Linked DNA regions of Homo sapiens: region 2 is linked to region 1. The links come from fine-mapping of genetic effects on gene expression. A gene starts in region 1. The other region holds a variant in brackets. All regions are shown on one strand. Distances are between the middles of the regions. Region 1 holds the start of SMAD1 (SMAD family member 1). Region 2 holds the start of SMAD1-AS2 (SMAD1 antisense RNA 2).

Region 1 (9,631 bases):
GACTCAGCTTCTAGGTCTTTACACTTGCTCTTCCTTTTGCTTGGGAGGTTGGGAACTCATCCCTCAGAGTGTGTACTGTGCTTCCTTCCCTTCCTTCAGGACCTCTTGCAGTGAGGTTTCCTCTGCCCCTTTAGAAATAGTCATCTCTCCCATTCTCAATCCCTCTTCCCCTGTTTTTTCCATCACTTGTACCACTACCTAGCATATTTGCGTATTTATTTATTTATTTATTTATTTTTTTTTTTGAGATGGAGTCTCGCTCTGTCGCCCAGGCTGGAGTGCAGCGGCACGATCTCGGCTCACTGCAACCTCTGCCTCCCGGGTTCAAGTGATTCTCCTGCCTCAGCCTCCCAAGTAGCGGGGACTACAGGCACATGCCACCATGCCCGGCTAATTTTTTTTTTTTTTTGTATTTTTAGTAGAGATGGAGTTTCACCATGCTGGCCAGACTGGTTTTGAACTCCTGACCTCGTGATCCATCCACCTCGGTCTCCCAAAGTGCTGGGATTACAGGTGTGAGCCACCACGTCTGGCCGTGTATTTATTTATTATCTGTCTTCCTTAATGAGGGCAGGGATTTTTTTCTGCTTGCCACCATATCCCCTGCTAGAACAGTGCTTCACTTACTCATTCATTCAACAGGTATTTAATATGCTCCTGTTAAATACCAGGCACTGCTCAGGTGCTGAGATTATAGCAATGAACACAGAAGACCAAAAATCCTGCTCTTTTGGCTAAATAATACGGAGACATTTGAGTGAAGACTTGAGGGAGATGAAGGAGTGAGCCATGTGGACATCTGTGGGAAGAGCTGTCCAGGGAGTGCTATGGTTTGAATGCATTCCCCAAAGTTTATATATTGTAAACTTAATCCCCAGCGCAACAGTGTTGAGAGGTGAGAACTTCAAGAGGTGATTATGTCATGAGGACTGTTAAATTAAGTTTAGGCTAAAGCTGCCTCCATATATATATATATACGTATATATACATATGTACATATGTATATACATATATATACACACACATATATATATATATATATATATTTTTTTTTTTTTTTTTTTGAGACGGAGTTTTGCTCTTGTTGCCCAGGCTGGAGTACAATGGCATGATATTGGCTCACCGCAACCTCCGCTTGCCGGGTTCAACTGATTCTCCTGCCTCAGTCTCCCGAGTAGCTGGGATTACAGGCGTGAGCTACCACGCCCGGCCCATACATATTTTAAGTTAGGCCTAAAGGTTTCTCTGTACACAGCAAACTGTAACCTAACTGGATATGCAAACAGACTGTAGCCAACTCTTGTACCAATCACAGAGTTTTGGTCAATCACAGGCAGCCAACTGTTCAAACTGTGTTAAAATAAAGCAAATATTTAGCTCTAACCAATCCAGTTTTTTCTGTACCTCACTCCATTTTCTGTCACTTTTCTTTCTCTGCCCATAAACATCATCTGACCCTGTGGCAGCCCCAGAGTTGCTCTGAAACTATTCTGGTTCTGGGGGCTGCTCAGTTCTCAAATTGCTCTTTGCTCAATTAAACTCTGTTAAATTTAATTTGCCTAAAGTTTTTCTTTTAACAGGGATCTGTCCTCATGAATGGATTAATGGCATTATGGGAGTGCGGTTTGGTATCTCAGGAGGGGATTGCTGATATAAGCATGAGTTTGGCCCTTTTCTACCCTTCCTCTCATGTTCTCTCTCTTGCTATGTGATGCCTTCTGCTATGTTGTGATGAAGGAAGAAGGCCCTCACCAGATGCAGCCCCTTGATTTTGGATTTCTCAGCCCCCAGAACCATGAGCTAAATTAACTTTTATTGTGTATAAACTGCCCAGCTGGTGGTTGTATTGGTCCATTTTCATACTGCTATGAAGAAATACCCAAGACTGGGTAATTTATAAAGAAAACGTGGTTTAGGGCTGGGTACGGTGGCTCACGCCTGTAATCCCAGCACTTTGAGAGGCCAAGGCAGGTGGATCACCTGAGCTCAGGAGTTTGAGACCAGCCTGGCTAACACCACAAAACCCCGTCTCTACTAAAAAATACAAAAAAAGATTAGCCAGGCGTGGTGGTGCATGCCTGTAGTCCTAGCTACTTGGGAGGCCAAGGCAGGAGAATTGCTTGAACCCTGGAGGCAGAGGTTGCAGTGAGCTGAGGTTGCATCACTGCATTCCAGCCTGGGTGACAGAGTGAGATTCTGTCTCAAAAAAAAAAGGTTTAATGGACTCACAGTTTTACACGGCTGGGGAAGCCTCACAATCATGGCAGAAGGTGAAGGAGGAGCAAAGGCACATCTTACGTGGCAGCAGGCAAGAGGGCGTGTGCAGGGAAACTGCCCTTTATAAAACCGTCAGATTCTCATGAGACTTATTCACAATCACGAGAACAGCATGGGAAGAACCCACCCCCATGATTCGATTACCTCCCACCAGGTCCCTTCTATGACACATGGAGGTTATGGGAGCTACAATTCAAGATGAGATTTGGGTGGGGATACATAGCCAAACTCTATCAGTGGTATTCTATTACAGCAACACAAAATGAACTCAGAAAGGGAGGGAACAGCTAGCACATAGATACTGAGGTGAGAATGTGCCCAGATTGTTCCAGAAGAGTGAGGATGCCAGTGTGACTTGGGGAAGTGAGCAAGAGGAAGAGTAGAAGTGCAGGTCAGAGTGCTAAAGGAGGGGAAGGAAAGATTATGTAGAGTCTTGTGCTTATTATGGGAACTTTTATTCTGAGTGAAATGAGGACCCAAGGGAGGATTTTTTAAAAATTTAATAAAATGATATTAATATACAGTCCATATTTAGGTTTTTATAATGGTCTCATCAATGTCCTTTTAAAAAGAATATCCAAATTTTTATTATCATTTAAGGAAATAATTTGCACAATGGGCAAAATCAAATTTTATTGCATACATAATAATATTAATAGTTATCATTTAAGACTACTAGGACTGCACTAAGAAAGGCCATCTAGGCTGGGCGCGGTGGGTCATGCCTGTAATCCCAGAACTTTGAGAGGCTGAGACGGGTGGATCACTTGAGGCCAGGAGTTTGAGACCAGCCTGGCCAAAATGGTGAAACCCCGTCTCTACTTAGATGGGCGTGGTGGTGTGTATCTGTAGTCCCAGCTACTCGAGAGGTTGAGGCAAGAGAATTGCTTGAACCCGGGAGGCAGAGGTTGCAGTAAGCCGAGATCGTGCCATTGCACTCCAGCCTGGGCGACCGAGCGAGACTCCGTCTCAAAATTAAATAAATGCCATTTTTGATTTTTTTAAAAATTAACGACTTTAAAATGACAGTTTATAGCTCCTCCTCCCCATTCAGGATCCAATCAAGGTCATATACTGCATTTCATTGTCATGCTTTTTTTTTAATAGCTTGAGGTAAAATTCACATACCAAATGATTGACCCATTTAAAGTGTGCAATTTAATGGCTTTTGGTATATGCACAGAGTTGTGCAACCATCACCAGAAACTAGTTTTAGAACAATTTTGTCACCCCATAACCTTTAGCTGTCACTCCCCAGGTTCCTCATTTCCCCAACCCTATGCAAACCACCAATCTACTTTCTGTCTCCATAGCCTTGCCTACTCTGAGCATTTCACATATGTGGAAGAATACAATGTGTGGTCTGTCTTCTTTCCCTTCACGTTTTGAAAGGTTATCCATGTAGCATGCATCAGTATCAGTACTTCATTCCTTTTTATGGCTGAATAATGTTCTCTTGTATGGGATACTTTATACTATTTATCAAGGGAGGGTTTTCAACAGAGGAGTGGCCTGATCCGAGTGGCATTTAACAAGGTTCACTTTCCTGTTGTTCTAAGGAGCAGAGAATGATCAACTGCGTCAAACGCTGCTTTTAGGGAAAATAAGATGAGGCCCACGAATTGACCAGTAAGTGCTCAAATAGGTTAAGGGAAAAAGGAATTTAATTAGAAGACATATTCTGATATACATTGCTGGGAGTGATTTTTTTTTTTTTTTTTTTGCTTCATGTGAAATTTATTCCTCAAAAAAAAATCATTTTTTCTAAACGTAACTCAACATTATAGTAATTATGCAAGATTTTATGCAGCTTCAAGAGTTAGCCAAGAGAAAAGTTGACTCTTGCAAGAAGATATTTTCAATGTCTATGCAGATCAGGTAGGTAAGAGTTAAGTGCGGGGGAGTTGGCATCATCTAAAAGACTGTAGAAATTGGACCAAAAATGTGGAGTTCTAAAGCAGTATCTCCTTATGGCATGCCATTATTTGGAGCAACAAGGTTACCTACTCGAATCACTGGATCCTGAGTTGACACAAAACGCATCTGTTGACTCAGGGTTTGTATAACCACGTGCAGTATTTACTAGGCTATCCAATTCTGGGTACGTACAACTTCTGGGGCCTGCAAATTATTGGAGAGTGAGTGAGGGGCAACGAAAGATAGACATAAAAGGGCGCGTCTCGAAAGGTAACTGTCAACATGCACTCCACGTTTATAGAACGATTCAGTGGGCGCGGTGGAAGCGTTAATGAACATTTCAGAAAATAAACATATGGAACATCGAAATTCACTTGCAGATAATGGACTAAGTCCGCTCCACCGGGACTAAAAAGGCAGGGTTAGGAAAGCCTGAACGCCGCCACACTGTTTTTTCTCCAGGAAGAAACGGGGCGTGGGGCTGCCGGTAGAAGGGGGTGGCTCCGGCCGCTCCCCCGCGCCGTCCTCCGGCCCCGGCCGCGCTGCGCTCACGCCGGCCGGGCCGGGAATTTGGAGAGGATCCCTGGTCGCGCGGCAGCGGCGGCGGCGCGCGGGTGAGCGGGTGAGCGTGTGAGCGGGCGGGCGGGCAGGCGAGTGCGCCGGGTATTGGCAGCTGAGGAGTGGAGGCTGGGCAGCTCCGACTCCCTGACGCCAGCGCGACCAGATCAATCCAGGCTCCAGGAGAAAGCAGGCGGGCGGGCGGAGAAAGGAGAGGCCGAGCGGCTCAACCCGGGCCGAGGCTCGGGGAGCGGAGAGTGGCGCAGCGCCCGGCCGTCCGGACCCGGGCCGCGAGACCCCGCTCGCCCGGCCACTCGTGCTCCCACACGGACGGGCGCGCCGCCAACCCGGTAAAACGAAACAGACCCGAACCGAACTTTCCCTTCATGCCGCGTCCCAGCCCTCCCCTCGGCGCCCCGGGCTTTCCAGCGCCGCCGCCGCCGTCTCTGCACGCGTGGGGCCGCCGCGGTCGTGCTGGGCTGGGGGCGCGGGCAGCGGCGGGAAGGGGGCTCTTTCTGCGCGGGGCGGGCCGCGACCCCCCCCCCCCATGATGGCGCCTCCCGTCTGCTCGGAGGAGCGAACCTGCTACCACGTCTTCTCGCGCCCAGCCCGCCGGGCTCCCCTGGTGTCTTTGTTGGGTCTTCTGCTGTGGGAAGCCCAGTTCCCGGGCCCCCGAGCCTCGGCTCCCGGGCCTGACCGCGCTGGGATCTCCCCGGCCGCGCTCCCCTTCCGCGCGCTCCTCACATCTCTCCCGTGCTGCCGCCGGGCCGAGGCCCGTTCGCGTGGCCCGCGGACCCATTGTGTCCCCCGCGCCGGCGGGGCGACCCCTGCGGGAGCTGGAGGACGACCGCTGGCGCTGCTCTCCAAGGCGCCTGGTGGAGCGGGTCTCGCGGGCGGGGGACCCCGGCGCCCCGGGCCCCTCCACATCCCGCACGGGTTTTCTTCTCGGCCCCAGCAAGCCTCTTTGGGGTCGAGGTCAAGGAAAGTTCGCACCGAGATCCCCTCTAATTTATTCAAAGGTTTGGCGGCGGCGCGTAATTTTTTCCCCCTCTTCCGCCTACACCCGCTGCGTCTCCTGGTGTCTCGTTCCTTTCCCTTTACCGGAGTCGATTGCCTCACTGCATGTGTATTCGTGAGTTCGCGGTTGAACAACTGTTCCTTTACTCTGCTCCCTGTCTTTGTTAGTGTTTCTCGGGGTTGTTTCTGTAGGAAGGTGGGGGTGGTGGGCGTGAGAGACAGATGTGGGCTTGTTTTTCTAGTTGCTGAAACTGTATGAAGGCTTTAAAGGGAGAACGTTTTCTTGATGTGCTTTAGGAGGGGAGGAGGAACAAATGCCTGCCAGATCTCACAGCTACAGTAGCTGAGCTTTTGTTTATTTTGAAGAGCATGCAATTTTTAAATACACGGTGCAAGATAACCAGTAAAGGCGCGTTCCTTCTGAAAATTGAGGCCGGTCTCAGAACCATCTCCTGAGAAAGCATCCTTTTCGTGAGTGCTGAGACAACTGTCCTTTTTCTCTGCCCTCCCCCCTCTTTTCTTTCCATTGTATCTGAAGTTTCAAAGTACGTGGAATGATACAGAAGTTGCATGATTTCTGTTATTTCTTCCTGTTGCTGAAACTCTCAGCCGCTAAATCTCAGAATGCCTCTATTTCAGAACATCTCTGGGTCTAATTGCCTGTTGTGGATAACTTGCCCACACCTCAGTAACACAATGAGAAAACTGTTCCCTGCCCATGTTGATTTTTCAAATTGTTTGTAATTACTTTAAATTGTATTGAAGGTAGGTGGACCGTGTTAAAAAAGAATCGGAACAGAAGTGTTCACTGCCCCAGCATTTTCAATTGGTATAAATATTGTTGCATCAGTGTTATTCTGATGTAGGTGCCAGATCTAAATATGCTGTACTGATTAAAGTGTTTGTTCTGCCCTCTCCCACTCTCTTTCCCATTTGCAATTATTTGCTATTTCTGTGCAGGTGGTGTATCATTGGTGTAATACTGCAGTTCTTAGGAAGGTGTAGCTAGGGTCGTGAGAGATGATTTTTCTGGAGGTGGGTGATGCCAGAGCCTCTAGAGGATCCAGGCAGGATCGAGTTTCTTCTGAGGGTAGGGATTTGTCCTTGATTTAGTTTTGACCCCTACAACCATAGGTATGTAACCAAATACATTTTACCTCTTGCAGTATCCTTTGGTTTCGTATCCTTGAAGAGCTGATGACCTTTGTGTTTTAGAGAAATGACAATTTTTAGGCAATTAAAGACATTGGCCTCTTACACTTCTTGGAATTTTATGTTATTTTTACTAAGTTCATTAAGGCATTAAGAGGAAGTTGTCACATTTTCTCAACTACGTTTATTACATTTATTAGTTAAAAACTAAATTTCACTTTGTAATTTTGATTTCTAGCAATTCTGGGTTAAATATTAAATCTAATAACCTAGTAGATTGGAAAAAGAAGTAGCTTGGGTATAGTAATTAGACTAGCATGTTTAAGCTGCAGTAGCCTACATAATCAAGGCCAAGTGTGTGTGTATAAAAGATCTCATTTGTGTAGTCTTACAAGGCTAATGGAGGCATCACTGAGGCTTTATAAATAATGTAAGTTGGGTATAATGTAGAGTCTCCAGAGACGGCAGAGAAAGCATCATTACCAGCCTTTTCAACCTGCTTGAGATCTTAAATTGATTTACAGCACTGAACTGGTGCAAAATGATACATCAGGATGACATGGGGTCAGCCTGTAAAAGTCTATGATGTCAGCCTATTAGTTCAGTCATCATAATTAAACCATATTACAGGGGTAGCTAAGCAGGAGTCTGGCGTTATACTTCAGATATGGGTGGTACATGGGTTTTGTTTATAGTGGAAAGGCTGAGATGGCCAGGGATACCAGTGTGTGTGAAAGAGGGAAAAGGCTTACAGAACTATGAATTTCTGTAGAAAAATTTAAGATAAATGCAGAGATATTCAATCTGAATTGTATAAGTAGCTTTTCATTTGGTAGAGGAGAAACAGATGCTTTAGGGATGCTGATAAGGACCTTTGCAGCTCTGATATGTGTACTGAATGCTTCATGTGAGTTTGAATTTAACTTGGCCTTAGGGACCTTATAAAATATCAGTGGACCACATACTTAACTTTGATCCTTTTATTACCCCTGAATTTTCACTGTATTGATATCTACTGACATGTTATTTCTTTAACTAGTCAAACTTACCAGGCCTATACCAGAAACAAAGATATTTGAATTGAACATATAAACAGTTCAGGAAAAGAAGATCCTTATTTTGCTTAAGTTTCTGACAATCCTTATTTAGCTTATGGATTATCTAGGGCTCTGCTATCCTAGCCATAGTCACACGTAGCTTTTTTTGAAATTTTATTATTCTATTTTTTTGAGACAGGGTCTCTCTGTGTTACCCAGGCTGGAGTGCAGTGGCACGATCATGGCTCACTGCAGCCTCGACCTCCCAGGCCCAGGCAGTCCTCCCACTTCAGCCTCCCAAGTTGCTGGGACTACAGGCACTGCCACCATGTCTGCCTGACTAATTTGTTTTTGTATTTCTTGTAGAGACAGGGTTTCGTCATGTTGCCCAGGCTGGTCTTGAACTCCTGGGCTCAAGCTGTTCTCCCGCCTCGGCCTCCCAAAGTGTTGGGGTTACAGGTGTGAGCCACTGCACTCGGCTACTTATAGCTATTTAAGTTTAAATTAAAATTAAATAAAAATTCGTTTTCTCAGCAGTAGCCGCATTTCAAGTGCTTAGTAGCTGCTTGTGGTTAGTGGCTGCCATACTGGACAGCGTGTATATAGAATAGTTCCATCATCACAGGAGGTTCTGCTAGCCATTGCTGCCCCAGGACCTTTACCTCTTCTCACTTGTTAACTCTACTAATGATTTGTGGAGTCAAAGATGGAAAGACATATATAAACTAATTTTATCACTAACTAGCTGTTCTTTTTAAAATAAAACACAATTTGGAAGGGACAGTTGAAGCTGCTGGATAAAAGGAGTTTGACTTTTCTGTAGATCTTATTTATTATTAGTGTCATCGATTCTAATTTGGTTTAGAGCCTTAGAGAGAAGAAATAATTGTAGCTAACCCTTTTTTCTGAATTTTTACTGTATGTATGCCAGGCATTGTTTATAATACCCATATCTCATTTAAGCCTCAAAACTTCCATAAGTACTATTGTTGTCACATTTTACAGGTAAAGAAACTGAGGACAGAATGATTCAGTATCTTGCTTCAGGAGGTACAGTGAATGATTATGATTTCTAATCTTACCTGGGATATGATCGAGGCAGTCCAACTCTAGAAACTCCATCTTAACTATGTTTTTTGGTCTTTCGTTCAGAAGACCCAAATCATCATTGTTCTGCTGTGCTTTACTATGCCAGTATAGACATGACTTGGCTTGTGTATTTTGTAGGTCTTTAAATAAATTTACCTTCTATTGTGCCTTTCTGGGCTATCTTCTGTCGTTCTTTTGTAAGTGTTTAAGAAAGGAAAAATAATGCTCATCTAAGCAGCACATAATTTGAAGAATAAATCTGGCATGAAAATAATGCATTTCAAAGCCAAATTAGTTTTATCTCTGCTTTTCTGCATAATTCTTGTCACTTTCCTCTTGCATTTTCTTACATAATCACAAACTGATATTAAGTTAGGAGGAAAGTTGTAGTAATTCAGTTTGTCTGTCTTACCAAAATTAGTCTATCTTCCCTGAGCTGTTAAACACTGTAAGAATAGTAATTGCAAATTCATTGGGGATTTTTAAAAAAACATTCAACATCTATTTTTGTAAATGTTTTACAAGGTCAGGGCTGTTTAAGAATCGATGAAACTATGGATCTTGTATCTTCTTATTCCCACCTT
Region 2 (9,631 bases), 25 kb after region 1:
GGGATAGTTTTTTCCTCCTGTAGTTGATTCCATTTTCATCTGTGAATTTGATATTTGGATTACCTTTTTTTTTTTTAAACTTGACTGAGGGACTTCAGTATTAGTCAGTACTGGTTTAAAATATAGATATACTACTTACCAGAATATGGTCTGGAGAAAGTTACTTTAACCTCTGAGCCTCAAGTTTATTACTAAAATTGAGATAATGATTTCTACCTTGAAGCATTGGTGTGAGGAGTCAATGTAATAATGTTTGTAAAAACAACCAGTATAATGCTTGTATAAGTTGGTAACTCAAACAATTTCGTTTATTAGCTACTGACGAATCATTCATAACTAGCCACTTACGGAAATCTACCACATTTAGCATTCTTTGTAGTCTAAAATTGCTATTTTAGGATAACTGACTCAAAGAGAATAGTTTTTTCTGAGACAACTACCATAGACTTTCTCCTGGGATAGTCAATAAAATTAAATCTTAAAATGTCTGTGGTCTTCAATCTTTCCTGTGTTTGAGGAGTGAGCATTTGTAGGCCAGGAGTCTTTACAGTGTTTGAGTTGACATGAATGTGAATGGCCTTTATCAGGATGAGCTTATGGGGAGCTGGACATCTTGAAAGGCTACCGTGTCCTGAAGGACAGTATGCCATTACAAGCATGAATTTGGGAATGGGGGTTCAATGGGATTAAGGAATGTTGTACAACTTTTAGAGGAAATGGCAAGAAGATATAGAAAAGCCAACTTTGTTTGTTGAAGTTGGGGACAATAAGAAAACTTTCAATTGCCTTAACTATTCAAGTAATCATCTAATCAGACAAAACAGATGTGACAGCTGCTATTTTATAGGGAATCTCTGTGATTAAGAAAAATTAACCAGGTACTCTATTAGCAGCCTAGATTTGTCAGGATGGAAGGATTTGTGTATGCAGAACAGAACCAGAAAGAACTCTTTTTAAAGAATTTTCTGATATAATGAAGATACGTTAATAGCACACTTGGCACACCTAAAATAAATAAACTACAGTTATATCCTTAGAGACTCTTGTCATTCTGACATCCATAAGTTCCTTGCTTCCTTTTCATCAAGGAGATGCTACTTTTGAAATTGTTTGGCTGAAATTTCACAGCTTCAGTGAACTTACAAGTGGTAAGTAGTAAGCTGGAATTCAGTCTACATGGTATTCCTTTTCTTTTTGATTCCTAAGATTTCTACTCACTTAACACTGTTGAGGGACCAAATTGCATCTCTTGCTGGCATGTCACTTAAGTTATACTGGAGAGACTGGAAGACTTGCTGTCAGTGTCTGCGCTTTAAACGCACAGTGTCTGCGCTTTAAAGGCAATAGTACCTGCATTATTGCATCACTATAAATAGAATTTCACGAACTGAACCTCTCTCCTATCTCCAACCCCCAATTTCTCCAGATTTAGAAAATCAGTCTCCGGCAAAAATAAATTTTCAGTGGGAAAAATGTCAAACTAGCTATTCTGCATCATCAGTCCCATGTTTGGAAGTAGCCAGATCAAGGCTGAATAGTAAGAGGCTCAGTAAGATGGAACTTTACTTGTGGTGTTTGTGATGGTAGGACTCTCCTGCTGCTGTGAACTGAGAGCAGCAGAGTTCTGTGTTCTCTGTGGGTCTCCGTATGGCTTTCTTGTGTAGGAATTTGGTTTAAATACATTTTTCCCCTAAGGACTAAAGCGAAATAGAGTTCATTATAGCCTTTTTAGCAATGAAGTTAAGCGCTGTACTTTATGAAGTACGTTAGCATCAGTAAAGAGCAAGGTTTTATCCATTTTCATTTTTCTTTCTGTTCTAGAGGTTTTTTCCTCCCTTATTTTGCTTAGTGGTGAGTTTTATTTAGCTAAATTTGACTCATTTGAGATTGAGACAAATGTTGAAAGTTGAGGGCTAACTGCTGTTTTAAAACAGGAAAAAGGAATGCAGGCACTTCACCTGTTTCCTCCTCCAATACAAATACAGCAGGTCCTCAGACAACCTCATTTCATTCAATGCCATTTCCTTATAACGTTGATGAGAAAAAACATTCCCAGCCTAGGCCACTGTCTGTGTGGAGTTTGCACATTCTCCCCATGTCTGCTTGGGTTTTCTCTGGCTACTCTAGTTTCCTCCCATATCCCAAAGGTGTGCACGTTAGGTGAATTAGTATGTCTACATTGTCCCCATTGCAGTGCATGTAGGTGTGTGTGTGAGTGCGCCCTGCCATGAAATGGTGTCCTGTCCAGGGGTGGTTCCCACCTTGTGCCCTAAGCTGCTGGGATCGGCTCGGGCCACTGCGACCCTGAATTGGAATAATTGGGTAAATAATTATCTTGTTTCTGTTCATCTTTCTTAAATGTATATATGGCTCACATTTATTTCAGTGTTAATTTTAGAAGTGTTTTGGGTCTCAGAAGTTTGGTAATGTTTTTGTGACCAGAAATGTCCTGAAGGAACTTAACTCTTGTTTATATAAATTAGCTGATGCTAAAATTAATTTTGTTTTACATCGTTTCACTTAGAGCCACAGTTTCCAAGAACCCGTAAGGACTTTACTGTATCTGAAAACCTGGTTAGCTCCTAACTGGAGTAACTGGGTTAAAGAAGCATTTGAACATTATTTGTTGAACCAGATCAAAGAACATTGCTACTTTAGGGTATTTTCTGGAACTGAAATAACTAGATCCATTTCTGTTTTTATATTCATTGTAATGGCATTGGACTTGTATAGCAAATTTTAACTTGTCTTTTGCCTGTCTGCCTTAACCTTAAGGGTAGATATTTATCATTTTCCTTAAGGAGCTGTACAATAATCTTTCATGCTTTTTGTTAGGAACCATTTACAATTCCTACTGTCTGCTACTTATCGTTGTGTTCTACTTGTTCTAGAGTTCTGTCTCCACCTGTCTTCATTTTTAGGGGTACTGTTTTTTAGGGGTACTATTTCTCTGTTTGGAAATGTGAGCGGATGGCAGTTTCTGCCTCAGCCCTCTTGCTGGGCCATTGTCTCATGTGGGTTGTCTGCTGTTCCACATTTAAGTAATAGTTATTTCAGCTTTATCAAAAGTTTGTAAGTTCCCAGTTCTTCTGGACTTCTGATTAATTCAGCCTGATTTTATTTAGGGCAAATGATTATGATCCCCTTTCCATTTTGTGAATTTTTCATATTTTACCAATAAATCTCATTGCAATTCTTTGCTTACAAGATGGCTTGAAAGATGCAAGCAATGATGGATTGCTCTTTATTGTTTTAAAATATTTATTGGCCTTAAATTGCTGAAATAATATGGTTTTTCCAACCTTTGTGTTTTTATGCATTTTTAACCCTACGTCTTTAGTGTATAATCTTCTGTGAGTCTGTGGTTTCTATAAGTGTCAGGAATTTTTCAGGTGTCTTTATTATCCTTTGAAATCATGATCTATTTGGACAATTCCATCTTTGTTTGGACTATACAGTTGACTTGAGTACCTAAGTGAAATGGAGCAGGTTAGAAAAAAGTAGTTTGTTTTATAGTAATGAGAATTACATTACAAGTCCCCTGGCATGTTCCCCTTTGACCTTTTTTGATGTTTTAATTTAAGCATCTCAAACAAGGCAAGAGTTGATCTCACCAGGCCTTGAATCCTATCCAAAATTGGATGTTAGGATAGATGACACATACATTTCTGTAATACTAATTAATATTGCCAGTTAATATTGATCACTTTCTACAACATGTCTCTGAGATATCTTGCATCTCCATGGCATCTAATGAGGTGTATTGTGAAATAGTTTCATATATTAAAAATACTGGAAAATAATATAAAAAATTAGCTGGGCGTGGTGGTGGGCACCTGTAGTCCTAGCTGCTCCGGAGGCTGAGGCAGGAGAATGGTGTGAACCCAGGAGGTGGAGGCTGCAGTGAGCCGAGATCGCGCCACTGCACTGCAGCCTGGGCGACAGAGCAAGACTCTGTCAAAAAAAAAAAAAAAAATGCTGAACTACAAAATTCATGCAGTTTGCTTATAATCACTCTGAAGCCCACCATAGGTCTACTCTGGAAGCTCAAGTCTTACTTTTTCTGTGTATTCACAAGACCAGTCTATCTGTTTAAGAATATATCTGGCGATGTAAGTCTGGAAATACGCACTTAGGTGGTTTTGTTACTTAGAAATATTTGTTTCCAAAAAGGAAAAAAAAGGTCAAACAATTTTTTTTTTTTTGAGGCGGAGTCTCAATCTGTCACCCAGGCTGGAGTGCAATGGCACAATCTTGGCTTACTGCAACCTCCACCTCCCTGTTCAAGTGATTCTCTTGCCTCAGCCTCCCAAGTAGCTGGGTCTAAAGGTGTACACCACTATGCCCGGCTTATTTTTGTATTTTTAGTAGATACAGGGTTTCACCATGTTGGCCAGGCTGATCTTGAACTCTTGACTGGTGATCCCCCCTCCTCGGTCTCCCAAAGTGCTGGGATTACAGGTGTGAGCCACCAAGCCTGGCCGATCAAACAGAATTTTTATAAAGTTGTCTTTAAAAAAAAGAAAAAAAAAGTATCCAGCTGTTAAACATTTTCAAAGTGAAGTTAATCAATACCCTGTACTTTTAGTTCCTTAATTCTTTTGATCTTTGTGCCATGATTTTTTACTATTAGTTAAGAAAGTGTAATGAACCAAAGAACAAGAAGTAGGGGGAGAAAAGAGTTGCCTGCTTCATTTGACAATAGACCATTTATCTTCTGTTATTTGCCTTTCTTAAAGTACGGAGAGTTTTTGGATTTTTTTCCCCCAGTCACTTTTTGTAGCCTGTATTTTTTGTTTATTTTATTGAATAATACAATTATTCCCTCAATATTTAATGGGAGCATTTATTTTGTCTGCTGAATTCCATACTGGTGCAAGAATTATAAAACAGCCTCTAGTCTGAAGCTGATACAGAGAGTGGTTGAACATTATTTGTCTCCTAATCTTTTTATTAAAGGGGGTTGTAACATTTGGTGGTTACTCCTTCCTTTAAAAAACAATTATATCTTCATATACAAATTAGGGTAATTAAAAAAAAACTTTCTGTGGGAATTTGGGATCTGTAACATATTAAATGGAAGAGAGTGTATTTTGTTGATATTCACAGGAGTTGGATAATTTACTTGTTGCTTTACTAGATGAGGCCAAGGTGAAGAAAATGCCCATTTGTTCTGCAATTGGCTGATTAGGCTTCCTTTAAATATAAAGCAAGTTACATAGCAGTTAAGAGTATTTTAACATTTTTTTCTTTTAATATTAAGGAATAACACATAAGTTGGAAAATTAATTAGCCGTGTCGAGTAGTATAAGAGTATTTTTCTAATTTCACTTCTGGCAGTTCTGATAGAAATCCTTCCCATGGGTGAGACTCCTTAGGAAAACGTTCTGAGTTCAGAACACTGCTTTAAACTACATTATATTTTTTTTGCTTCTCAAACCAGATCACACTATAAATCCAACCTGATTTCTAAGTAGAGTATAGATGTGGCTTGAGATAATGAATTGATTTTTGTGGGTTTTTTTTTTTTGTAATTAGCAAATATTTGCTTCGAAAACCTTTTTATAAAAAATCAGAAGTTACATTTTTTCATTAAAGAACGTTTGAAAAGTTTAGAAAAGGAGGAGAGAGACACATTACTAATCTTCCAAACCCAGTCATGGTTAATATTTTCATATATTTACATAGTTGTTCATGGTACATATAACCAACCATTTTATGTTCTGCGTACAGTTTTCCCCAAATTATTACGTAGTCTTTATGAACATAATTTTTAAGGTCTGTATAATATTCCATTGAGTGGATGTATGCAGTTTACTTAGGTATTTTTCAATTATTAGATGTTTCTCTTTTTTTCCCTATTATAAATAATGCTCTGATGAAAATCTTTGTGCAAAAACAATTTTCCCTTTCTGGTTCAGAATATTTCCTTAGAGTAAATTTCTGAAGATAAAGTTGCTGGAATAAAGATCTCAATATTTTTAAGGCTGCTGGGTTTTTTTTTTTTTACTAGATGAATACTT[T/C]TTTGTTAGTGTGAAATGTTTATATTTGGACAAGAGGGAAGGAAATCTCTGTTTGCTGACTCATGTTTTTATTTTGCACTTTAAACTGATAAGGCCACTTAGCTTTTGACATAAACTAAGGCAGGAAGTACAAAAAGGGGCAGAAAAAAAGTAGTTGTCTTGCCAAGGCCATAGTATCATGGACTCATTTGAGTTCCTTATATGAGGTAGGTTACCTGTTTGACTTGTATATTAAAAAATGCTTAACTCAGGTAAAAATTAGTCATCAGCCTGCATTTTGTTTTGTCTGGGCATGTTTATATGCAAAGTGCTGTGATCTTTCACTTTAATTTTCGTGAGTGGCCTCAAGACATTTACCACCTAACTGGCTTCTATAATGTTTGGATGCCCTTGGTTTAGATTTTTTTTTTTTTTTTTGCTCCCAGTATGAAGAAATCTTTCTGTATTGAAGATATTACCTTAGTTGTCTTTCTAAAATGTAGATCTAATAATGCTAATTCTCAGATTTAAAACCTTCCACTTGTCCATATGATAAGATTCTTCAGTCTTGCCCCTTCCTTCATATCAGCTTGTATCATCATCTCCAGCGGATTAAACCCTAGCATTTCTATCATGTGTCTGTTGGAACAAGCCATTTGGAAAAGTGGTTTAAAAATTCTGGCTCTAGAGCCAGGCAAAATGGGTTCAGATCCAGGTTCTGCCACTTATAGCTGTCTACATAACTTTGGACAAGATACTCAACTATTCTATATTTTATTTTCCTTACATGTAAAATAAAGAAAATGATAGTATTTACTTCACAGTAAATACTAAGGTATTGTTGCTAAGATTAAACTGGTTAATAGATAAACAGCAGTGAACAGTGTTTGTCAAGTAATGAACACACAAAATGTTTGCTCTATTGTTTTGCAAAATTCTACTTATCCTTTAAGTCTGATGTTTTCTCTTGGAAAAAAATGTTCTGAAATCTCTGGAATTGTTCTTTCCTTTTCCGTTTTTATATATTATTGTCTTAGTTTGTAGGCCGCTATAACAAAATACCATATAGACTGAGTGGCTTATAAACAACAGAAATTTATTTCTCAAAGTTACAGTAACTGGGAAATCCAAGATCAAGGTACCTGGATGGCCTCTTCTCTCTGTAACCTCATATGGTGGAAGGGAGGAGAGATCTCTCTGGGATCTCTTTTATGAGGGCACTAATTCCATTTATGGGAGCTCCGTCCTCATGACCTAATCACCTCCCAAAGGACTCACCTTCTAATTCTGTCACCTTTGGGGTTAGGATTTCAACATGTGAATTTAGGGAGGGGATACAAATATTCAGACCAGAGTGTTGTTGATACTTGTTTTATAGCCTTTATCACATGATATTAGAGTAAGTTAATAGTAGGTAAATGCACAGCACATGGGCCTCTTCTTCGGTTATTCTTGTGCCCATGGGCAATGGTATAATCGTATTATTTCTTCTGACTGAGTCCCTGGAAGGTCACCTAATAAAACATCTCAGCAAAGTCCTTTAGAATTAGCATGCAGGTTAGCAATTTGCTTTATGGGAGTTAGTTGTTTACACACTGGCTTTCCCAATGGATTGTGAGCTCCTCCAGTATGTTAGACATGTTTGCTTCTGTGTCTCCTGTGTCTAGCACTGTGCTAGGCATACTTAGCAGGTGCTTAATACAGCTTTGTTGAATGAATGTCGATTTGAATAGTTAAAACAAAAATCTGAAATGGTGGTTCTTATATAATACGTTGCCCAACACTTGCCTTAAATAAATACCCCCAAGTGATTTTGGGGGTATTTGTTTAAATGTATTTGTTATATATTTTAAAATAGCCCCAAGTTATTTTGATGCAAACTTAGCCATTCTGTTTAAAAATTATTGCTTAAAATGTTAAAAAGCTGTTTTTGAAGAAGAGATGGACATATAGAATATGAAGAAATACACTCCCTCTATAAATTATTCCCAGAAGCCTAGAAAAAAGTTCTTGTTCTTTTGCAAAACTAACCTTTTAGTAAAAGGAAATTATCATATCAATAGGTACACTCTGACCAAGTGTGACTTTTGATAATAGCATAGTTTTGTTTTCTCTTTCCTTTAATGTTAAATGAAAATAATACCAACTTCAAAAAAACTAGTAAATTTGGGTGAACTCTTTAAAAAGGAAAACAGCGGACACCCTGTGGCCTCCCAAATAGAGTTGACGCTCCGTATTTGGCTTTCTAAGTTCTTCAAGGAGCTAAATTATTCATCAGGCATTTAGTGAGAATCAGCTATGTGCCAGGTACTATGCCAAGTTCCAAAGGTAAGAAAATAATAAGTTGGAGTCCTACATTGTTTCCTGTAGTGAAGATGACAGATGTGTAGATTATCACAATGTAGCTATAGACATGCACCGTTTGCCATGACAGCTATTTATAATAATTATAATTTTTAATTTCTGAGGCTAACGATTTCCCCATTCTGATCCATTTATTGGTAATTTGTGCCTTCTCTTTTTTATTTATCAGTTTTGCTAGGGATTTATCCAATTTTATTAGTATTTTCAAAGAATCAACTTTGATTTTATAGGTTTTCTTTAGTATGCTTTAAATTTCTGCTTTCATTTTCTTCTACTTTCTTTGGGTTTATTTTTCCTTTTAAAAAATCTTTGGCGGGTATTAGAGTGTTAGTTTTCAGCTTTTTTCCTTTTCTAATATATGCATTTAAGACTATAAATTTCCCTCTGTGCCTTGAGCCACATCCTGCATTTTTGATGTGATATTTTTACAATCATTCAGTTAAAAATATTTTCTATTTCCTCTATAATTTCTTCTTTGACCTTTGGGTTATTTTAAAGTTTGGTTCTTTTCAATAACAATGTTTTTATTGATTTAGTTATACTAAAATCAAAGAATATGTTCTATATGATTTTAGTATTTTGATACAGATTGAGATTTGCTTTGTTATTCATTATATGGTCAATTTCAGTAAGTATTCCTTGCGTATTTGAAAGTGTTATGAATTGTACAGTTGTTGAGTGCTGTGATAATATGTATATGAATTGGATCAAGTTTTTAAACAATTTTTTTCTGTATCTATTGATTTTTGTTTGCTTGTTTTATCATTTATTATGTTAATCTCCCACTAGGATTGTGGGTTTGCCTGTCATTGTAATTGTTAGTCTTTTGCTTTATGAATTTGAGACTGTTATTATTTACATAAAATTTGGAATTTAAAAACTACATGGTGGCTCAACTCATCACTATAAAATGTCCTTTTTTTCTTTTTTGTCTTTAAAAATCTCTGGTGATACCTCTTACTTTTGAAGTCTGTTTTATCTGAATGGATAGCTATGCCAGCTTTTTGGGTGGAATATGCATAGTATATATTTTTCCACTCTCTTGCTTTCAATACTGTGTTCTTATATTTAATGTGTGTCTCTTTTAAGTACAATATGGTTAAATAATGTTCCCCACAACTCTCTTAGTTGTCATATTTTAGTCATTTATATTTAAGTAATTGCTTATACTTTGGGATTATATCTAAATCTTACTATTTTCTGTTTGTCTCATCTGTTGTCTCCTTTTCATATGTTTTGCATTAATCATTTTTAAAATTTTTATT

Evidence for each region. PIP is the estimated chance that this variant, and not a neighbour inherited with it, causes the effect.
Region 2: its variant is fine-mapped to the expression of SMAD1 in whole blood (INTERVAL, PIP 0.93).

The regions. Positions count from the first base shown.
Region 1 is chr4:145,476,937-145,486,567 of GRCh38, forward strand. It overlaps SMAD1 (SMAD family member 1), which reads left to right and starts at 4,917. Exons shown (of 7, transcript NM_005900.3): 1 at 4,917-5,102. RefSeq lists silencers at 4,686-4,815, 4,986-5,145, 5,486-5,545, 5,636-5,735.
Region 2 is chr4:145,501,658-145,511,288 of GRCh38, forward strand. All of the region lies in intron 1 of SMAD1 (SMAD family member 1), which reads left to right. SMAD1-AS2 (SMAD1 antisense RNA 2) reads right to left here and starts at 1,323. Exons shown (of 2, transcript NR_108077.1): 1 at 1,219-1,323. RefSeq lists a silencer at 6,017-6,217. The variant T/C (reference allele first, on the strand shown) is at 6,024.